3 separate regions of the Homo sapiens genome follow, and regions 1 and 3 are each linked to region 2. The links come from fine-mapping of genetic effects on gene expression. A gene starts in region 2. Each other region holds a variant in brackets. All regions are shown on one strand. Distances are between the middles of the regions.

What was found. PIP is the estimated chance that this variant, and not a neighbour inherited with it, causes the effect. A credible set is the group of variants that fine-mapping cannot tell apart.
Region 1: its variant is the best candidate, but not a certain one, in a credible set for the expression of CPVL in monocytes (CEDAR, PIP 0.61).
Region 3: its variant is the best candidate, but not a certain one, in a credible set for the expression of CPVL in whole blood (TOPMed, PIP 0.88).

What each region holds. Positions count from the first base shown.
Region 1 is chr7:29,029,067-29,031,879 of GRCh38, reverse strand. CPVL (carboxypeptidase vitellogenic like) reads left to right here. Exons shown (of 13, transcript NM_031311.5): 12 at 1,121-1,303. Among named protein-coding and RNA genes, the nearest start is that of CPVL-AS1, 50 kb to the left of the region's middle. The variant C/T (reference allele first, on the strand shown) is at 1,287.
Region 2 is chr7:29,145,163-29,147,833 of GRCh38, reverse strand. It overlaps CPVL (carboxypeptidase vitellogenic like), which reads left to right and starts at 1,297. Exons shown (of 13, transcript NM_031311.5): 1 at 1,297-1,405. It also overlaps a transcript of CHN2 not described here.
Region 3 is chr7:28,993,670-28,996,482 of GRCh38, reverse strand. It overlaps CPVL (carboxypeptidase vitellogenic like), which reads left to right. Exons shown (of 13, transcript NM_031311.5): 13 at 601-1,248. The coding sequence ends at 711. CPVL-AS2 (CPVL antisense RNA 2) reads right to left here. Exons shown (of 5, transcript NR_038965.1): 2 at 232-318. Among named protein-coding and RNA genes, the nearest start is that of CPVL-AS2, 15 kb to the right of the region's middle. The variant G/A (reference allele first, on the strand shown) is at 1,259.

The sequences.
Region 1 (2,813 bases), 120 kb after region 2:
TTATACTTGACTTTCTGCTTTCATACTTAACATTATGTGATAAGTATTTCCCACATTGCATCATGGTTCAATGAAACATTTTAAATGGTCTTATAATATCCTATAGAATTCTTATACTGTTGTGCATTTACCTACTCAATTATAGGACTTCTGGATTGTGTTTGAGTTTTTCATTATAAGACTCAATGAATATATATAATTTTTTAAAATTTCTTTGGACCTGTTTTCCTAGAATATATTCTACAAGTTGAAATTACTGGGACAAGGAATTTCAACATTTTTAAGTTTGGGGGCAGAAAATTGGCTACTGATTTTCTGAAAAGAAGAGCCATTTTATACTGTCCCCATTAGTTCTACAACTTTATCAGAATTGGGAATTATCTGAATTATTTTTTCAAGCAAATTGAAAATTGCTTTAGGATTAATGAAAAGAGTTACCTCAGTGTTGTTTTTCCTATGATAAACATCAGTTTGACACATACAAAAAATTGTATTCTAGGAAGAAAGAACATTCCTCACTGTTGACAAGCAGCTATCATATTTTTAAAAAGGAAGTTTTGCAAGTGGCATGGCAGGCATAGTTGCTTCCAATAAGAAACAAATTTGAGGCACCTGAATCTCTCTGTCTGCTGCTGCAAAAAAATTATACTTGCTACTGAAATCAATGTAGGAGAGGAGAGCAATATGGATTAGCAATACCCAAGAGAAAGCTCAGCTTGCCAGCGACTGCACTGCCTGAAGTTGAAGTTAATGAAATGCAGGCTTCATGAAAATCCTAGGGGGTAGTATTCCTTAGTTCCACTAAAATGTAACCACAGTCTTCCTTCTTAACATAGCCATAAGTCCAAGTAAAACCTGTATATATGTATCACTGAGTAATACAACACAAATGTTTTTGCAACCAAGAGAGGCCTTTATGCAGATTACTATGAAGAATTCAGTGGTAGAGACAAGGCTTGAGTTTATTTCGGATTGTTATTCTTTATGGCTAACTAGAAGAAAATCTCAGAGAGATTCATGTCTCTTTTTCTCTCTCACTGGCTCACTATTTATACCTAGCTCGATTCATGAGCTTCACCTCCTGAATCTTGCATTTGCTGATGGCTTGATTTCATTTCAGGTTCTGATCTACAATGGCCAACTGGACATCATCGTGGCAGCTGCCCTGACAGAGCGCTCCTTGATGGGCATGGACTGGAAAGGATCCCAGGAATACAAGAAGGCAGAAAAAAAAGTTTGGAAGATCTTTAAATCTGACAGTGAAGTGGCTGGTTACATCCGGCAAG[C/T]GGGTGACTTCCATCAGGTAGGAAGATGCTTGGGAGCAGGCAGGTTGTGGGAATGGGAGAGCGGGATTGAAAATAAAGCCTGAATAGCAATGAGACATGGCCGACCTTAAGCAAAGCCATACAACAGCCAGTGTGTGTCTTCTGTGGCCCTACTTTCCACAGAGAAGAGTGGTCTGAGTTCAGACATACATAGGACTAAATATAAAACCAGACAAAAGTTTAGGCATTGTTCAAGAGGTAAGGAGACAATTCATTAAAAAGACAGTGCTCAGTCCAAAGAGGCAAATCATTAATGAGAGAATTGCAGTCTATTTGGGGAGAGAACTTGGCAAATTATAAAGGAAGTTTCAACACAATCTCCTCTGGCAAATGTATGATCACATTTTTATATTACATGTGGAGCCTCAGGACAAAATCTCTCTAGCTGACACCCTAGTGCAACTTCCACTGCGGGGTCAGATGTTACTCTCATCATCTTCCTTTCTTGCAATGTCCTCTTCAAGTGTTGGAATCATGGTTATACTGGCCTCATAAAATAAGTTGGGAAGTGTTTCCTCTTTCTGTTGTTGGAAACGGTATCTTTAAGTGTTAGGAGAATTCACTGGTGAAGCCATCTGGGCTTGGAGATTTGTTTGAGGGAAGGGTTTTGTTGTTGTTGTCGATATGTAAGTGTACATCTTTATAGAATACATGTAATATTTTGATACATGTATTTAATGTTAATGACCAAATCAGGGTATTTAGGATATCCATCACCTCAAACATGTATCATTTCATTATATTGGGAACATTTCAAATCTCTTCTAGCCATTTTGAAATATACAATATATCGTTCTTAACTATAGTCACCCTACTGTGCTATTGAACACTAGAATTTATTCCTTCTATCTAACTGTCTGCACCCCTTAACCAATCTCTCTTCGTCTTCCCACCCATCCCCACTTCCCAGCCTCTGGTAACTATCATTCTATTCTCTACCTCCATGAAATTAACTTTTTACGCTCCCACATGTGAGTGAGAACATACGATATTTGTCTTTCTTTGCCTGGCTTATTTCCTTTAACATAACGACCTCCAGTTCCATCCATGTCACTGCAAGTGATAGGATTTCATTCTTTTTTATGGCTTAGTAATATTCCATTGTGTGTATATGCCACATTTTTAAAATCCATTCATCTGTTGATGGACACTTAGGGTGATTCCATGTCATGGCTATTGTGAATAGTACTATGATAAACATGGCGTGCAGATATTCCTTTAATATACTGATTTCTTTTCCTTTAGAAAAATATCAAGTAGTGGAATTGCTGCAGCATATGGTAATTCTATTTGTAGTTTTTTTTAGAAACCTCCATATTGTTTTCTATAATGGCTGTACTAATTTACATTCCTACCAATAGTGTATGAGTTCATTTTCTCTGCATCCTCATCAGCATCTGTTATTTTTTGTCTTTTTGGTAATAGCCATTATAACTCCAATGAGATGATACCTCATTGTGGTTTTAATTTGCGTTTCCCTGATGATTA
Region 2 (2,671 bases):
AATCATTTGTTAACTTTGTTTATAACTTTTAAATATTTAGGTATCTGGCCTACAGATCTCTGTTTGTACTTTTGCCCTGGGTCCTGCATATATTAAAGGTGGGCTGATTTTGGCCTTAAAAGAATTATTTTCCCACAAACAGATTTTTCTCCTTAAAGAGCTAGGTGGGTAGGAAGTACTTCCATATGGAAGGTATGATAGCAAAGAATGACTGCAGTCACTGAGCACATACTTTGTGCTGGGTGATTTACACATAGTTTTTCAGTGAGTCCTCACAACAACCCAATAAAGTAGGTACTTAGGAGAAAACAGATATTCAGTGACATTAGTTTGTTCCAGCTCGTAAAACTAGTGCTTTAGTTAGCCTTAGTTGCATAACAAACTACGCGAAACTGAAAGTGGCTTAAAACAATTTTTCCCCCTGACTGTCGGGTTGGCTGGGCTGCTCTACTGCGGGTTTCCCTGGGCTCACTCCTGCAGCTAGCTGTGAGGAGATGGAGGTTGGCCCGGGACAGTGCAGAAGATTCCCCGTGGCCTCTCCCACCTGTCTGGCAGTTGACGCTGCTGTTGCTGATAATGATGACCCTCCTTTATTTTGTGTTATCTACTTGCCATTGCAACCTCCTTGCCTTTTTTAGTTCTTGCTCCCGTACTGTCTGGCTCGATGCCCAGCACCTGGTGGTGGCTAATAATATACACTCAGGTCACTTACAAGCAATGTGACCCTGGATGGGTTACTTAACCTCACTTAGTTTGTGTCCCCCAATTGCAAAATGGGTATAATGGTACAGAACACATCAGGTGGCTCTGAGACTCCAGCGCAGTGATTCAGGAGAGTGCTTGGCAGGACAGTGGCACTTGGTGCGAGCTTACTGCTAGTGCAGCTGGAATGTAGACCATCAGCGAACGTGTGTTGCCTTTTTAAACAGTGGGAATCAAACACCACTCGCTTTCCAAATGTAAATCCTGGGCTTGCAAGTAAGTCCTAGAGTGCAGAAATAATTTCAAAATACAGGGTTGAAATTTTAAGATAGCAGCTTTTAAAAACTGGGAGACAAAATCAAAATAAAACAAAGGGACAAACCAACCTGAATGGCACCCCGCCGATGCTCTTCATTAATTTTTAAGATTCCACCCTGGGGCTGCTTGCTTCTTCCAGCATGGGAAGCGCTGACTTGATGCGGCCAGGTTTCTGGGACCAGGAGGTTGGGACACGACGACGCACTTTTTGCCCTGTGGGTCTGGGTCATGTGAGCCTAGAGGAGCGCTTAAAGGCTCGAGTTCTGCAGGGTCCTCGTGACTGGGTGGGGCTGCCTCACTTCTGCCTGATTTGGGAAGCGCTGCAAGGACAACCGGCTGGGGTCCTTGCGCGCCGCGGCTCAGGGAGGAGCACCGACTGCGCCGCGTAAGTGCCGCCTGCCCTGCGTGGGTCGTGCCAGCTCAGCGGGACAGGTCCTCGCCTCGGTCCCTCGGACTTAGGGAGCGCGGGGCAGGTAGTCTCAAAAGCCCTCAGCACCAACAGGGGAGAAAGCACCGTAGAGTGAGACTGGAGTGGGGTGGTCGTGGCCGAGTCAAAGTTCAAATTGGAGCATTGGGGATGTACTGCGTGCGCCCAGCCGAGGGAATACTCTTGAAGTTTCCTGGCACAACTGTCGCACCCGGGGTTCTTCCAGGCTAGAAGCCGTCTCCTACTCCAGGAGCTCCTCCGGGGAAGTACGAAGCTGTGGGGTCCTCTGCCGCTCTTAGCGCGGGAGGGTGGCGGGTGCAGGACACTTTCCCTTACTCCCTCAACGCGTGTTTTGGGGATGTGTTGATTTCGTGGGTGCTCAGAAGCAAGAGAAGCGGAAAATACCTTCTATTTTGAACGTGCCCAAAGCAGGGAAACTTGGCTTCTGCCTAGGAACGCATAGGAAGACTTTTATTCTTGGAATGTAGGATTAGCAGAAACCAAGGGCACAGGAGACAGGTGGAAGCAGCTCCCTGTGAAGTGATACAGAAACAAAAGGACTTTGGAATATTTGTGGATTTAAATCCCAGTTCTGGCCTTGGCTAGTGAGTGACCTCGGGCAAATTATTTAAGCCTACTAAACCTCAGTCTTTCCATCTGAAAGATGGAGATAATAAGTTTTTCTTTTTAAAGAATTGTTTTATTGGAAATAGAAATAACATACAGAAAATGCCTCCCTAGCACGGGACTTGGCTTTTCAGCTAAGTGTAATTTTCCTTATCAGTTATGATTGATGATGAAGTCTATGGTGAAGACAGAACAAAATAATGTTTAAAACTCTGGCCATATAATGACTGTGGCTATGCATGACCCGTGTGCAGTCACCTCTGAGCCCCCCACCTTCACTGCAACCCCAGTGGGTCCCAAGCAAGGTGCTTGGGTTTTGGAGCTGGACAATTCTGTGCAATTCCTGGTTCCGGTATCCACTACTTGGATGACATCAGGGACGTAACTTATCTTCCACAGCCTCAGTTTTGGCATCAGTAAATGAAAAAGGAGCCCCTCAGTACTTGCCTTTCCCTTCCCCGGCTAAATGTACAACTCATTTTTTTTCCATTCTTTGCTTTGGGATGAGTAAGAACAAAGATGTAAGCAGAGTAAAAAGTCCATTGAGAATACATTTTATTAGCTTGGTAAATAACGTTTAAGAAAGTTGTCCAAAAG
Region 3 (2,813 bases), 150 kb after region 2:
TGGCATGATCCTAGCTCACTGCAGACTCCAACTCCTGGGTTCAGGTCATCTTCCTGCCTCAGTCAAGGATGTTTTTGGTTTTTTAATTTTTTTGAGAACCAAAATTTCCCCTTCATTACTGATAAAGGCTAAAATGGAAGGTATGGCTCAGTGTGAGGGACAATTGGGCTGGCTAACTGAAGGGTGGAATTAAGTAGACAATCCACCCCATTGCAGGCAGACCTCACATACCCCAGAAGTAGTGGGCTGGAGGTGGGCCTCACCAGGTAACACTTGCAGTGCAGCACTCTCAACTGCGGGGAGCAGGCAGATCACTCTCTAGAGGAAAAAGACAAGGAATAATTTTCAATTTTTACACTCATGAGAAAAGAATACAACTTTGCGTAAAATTAACTAAGCTTTAAAACTTTTCTACCTTAACATGCCTGTTACAAAAGCCATCAACAGCCAGATAGGCAGCTTGTCCAAAGGCATGCATTGGGAGAATATGTTCTGTATTTCATGTGAGTTTTAAATAGAGTTTAATCTGAATGAAAACTTTCCATGTATTTAGAATATCCATTTCTCTAAATTTCCGTTCTTTTACTTTTTCTTTTTAAGGTAATTATTCGAGGTGGAGGACATATTTTACCCTATGACCAGCCTCTGAGAGCTTTTGACATGATTAATCGATTCATTTATGGAAAAGGATGGGATCCTTATGTTGGATAAACTACCTTCCCAAAAGAGAACATCAGAGGTTTTCATTGCTGAAAAGAAAATCGTAAAAACAGAAAATGTCATAGGAATAAAAAAATTATCTTTTCATATCTGCAAGATTTTTTTCATCAATAAAAATTATCCTTGAAACAAGTGAGCTTTTGTTTTTGGGGGGAGATGTTTACTACAAAATTAACATGAGTACATGAGTAAGAATTACATTATTTAACTTAAAGGATGAAAGGTATGGATGATGTGACACTGAGACAAGATGTATAAATGAAATTTTAGGGTCTTGAATAGGAAGTTTTAATTTCTTCTAAGAGTAAGTGAAAAGTGCAGTTGTAACAAACAAAGCTGTAACATCTTTTTCTGCCAATAACAGAAGTTTGGCATGCCGTGAAGGTGTTTGGAAATATTATTGGATAAGAATAGCTCAATTATCCCAAATAAATGGATGAAGCTATAATAGTTTTGGGGAAAAGATTCTCAAATGTATAAAGTCTTAGAACAAAAGAATTCTTTGAAATAAAAATATTATATATAAAAGTAATGATGA[G/A]TCAATTCTTGATAAGCAGATGCTCTTATGCAGAGAACAAACTTAATCTTTGCCTTTTCATTTTCTTTTTCCTTCTTTGAGTTTGAGGTGTACACACTTCTGAAAGAGCCTGCAGGCTACATTAGTTATAAGAGCCATTTTAATTTGGGCTTCAAATTCTCTACTTCTTTTCCCCAAATAAAGAACAACCTAATTTTGTATCATTGTTAGAATATCAAAAAAAATTAAGATAAGCTGGCATCAATATATACATTTATAAATATACATTCATTAGCAGTTTTCTGACTAAAATGTCACATCCTGGCACATCTTTTCGATTTATGCATCATGTGCTCACATCTCTGAAATTCTACAAGACGTGTGGATTTTTCCACATCACTTCCTTCTCATATTACCCATCTATGAACTGGCTCACTGGAGAATTAAATTTAAAAAGTCAAAGCCTGTTCTTGCGGCAAATAGTTTATGGAGTTTATTCTTTTAATTTCTCATGTTGTGCCTGATTACGTTCAGGTTTGTGATCTTCCTTTTTAAATTGTTCATTGTACCCATGTCCTAGAAGTCATTAAATCAAATATTCTGATCAAAAGCAGATTTTAATTATTGCAGAGAATAAACTGGGACAGGGTAGGACGCAAGAAGTTTTTCATATAGCCCCATCTGCAAGTTAAATTAGCTGTATTTAGTCTCATAACTATGTACTGGAAAGGGCACTGACTGGCTGGGAGACCTGGGTTTAGTTTCATATGGATCACACATGCACTGGACGTTTTAGGAGAAGTCACTTCACCATACCAGCCTCCCAAAAACTCAAGGAAGGTAGCCAGAAGAGGAGACTTCTGAGGTTCTTTTGGGTTCACATGTCACTAGAGTAGTACCTATTTACAAGGGTACTATGAGATGATCCAGTTTATCCTCATTATTTCAAGAATTCCATGTTTGCAAATGGAGTCTACTTGCTAAAAAATGTATTTGTAACCCCAATATCAATACACTTGCTCTTTTGAGGTCATGTACAGAGTGGCAAAAAATTTCAGTTGCCCAACATATACATTCCCAGCTGGGGTCAAAGAAGGAGACGCTCTGCCTTCTTGTTTCAGCTTTCATACTGTAAAAAATCGTCTTTTTTTTTTTTTTTCTTATTAAGACGGAGTCTCGCTCTGTTGCCCAGGCTGGAGTGCAGTGGTGTGATCTCGGCTCACGGCAACCTCTGCTTCCCGGATTCAAGCAATTCTCTTGCCTCAGCCTCGCAAGTAGCTGGGATTACAGGTGCGCGCCACCAAGCCCAGCTAATTTTTATATTTTTGTAGAGATGGGGTTTTGCCATGTTGGTCAAGCTGGTCTTGAACTCCTGATCTCAGGTGATACTCCCACCTTGGCCTCCCAAAGTGCTGGGATTACAGGTGTGAACCACCACACCCAGCCCAATTGTCCTTTGCTAAGTCTGTTTAGTGCCACATTTTTTTCGCATTTTTGTGCTTTTTTTGTGGCTGATTTTGCTTTTTAAAATGGCCTCAAGCACGGTGCTGAAGTACTGACTAGTGTGCAAGAAGAC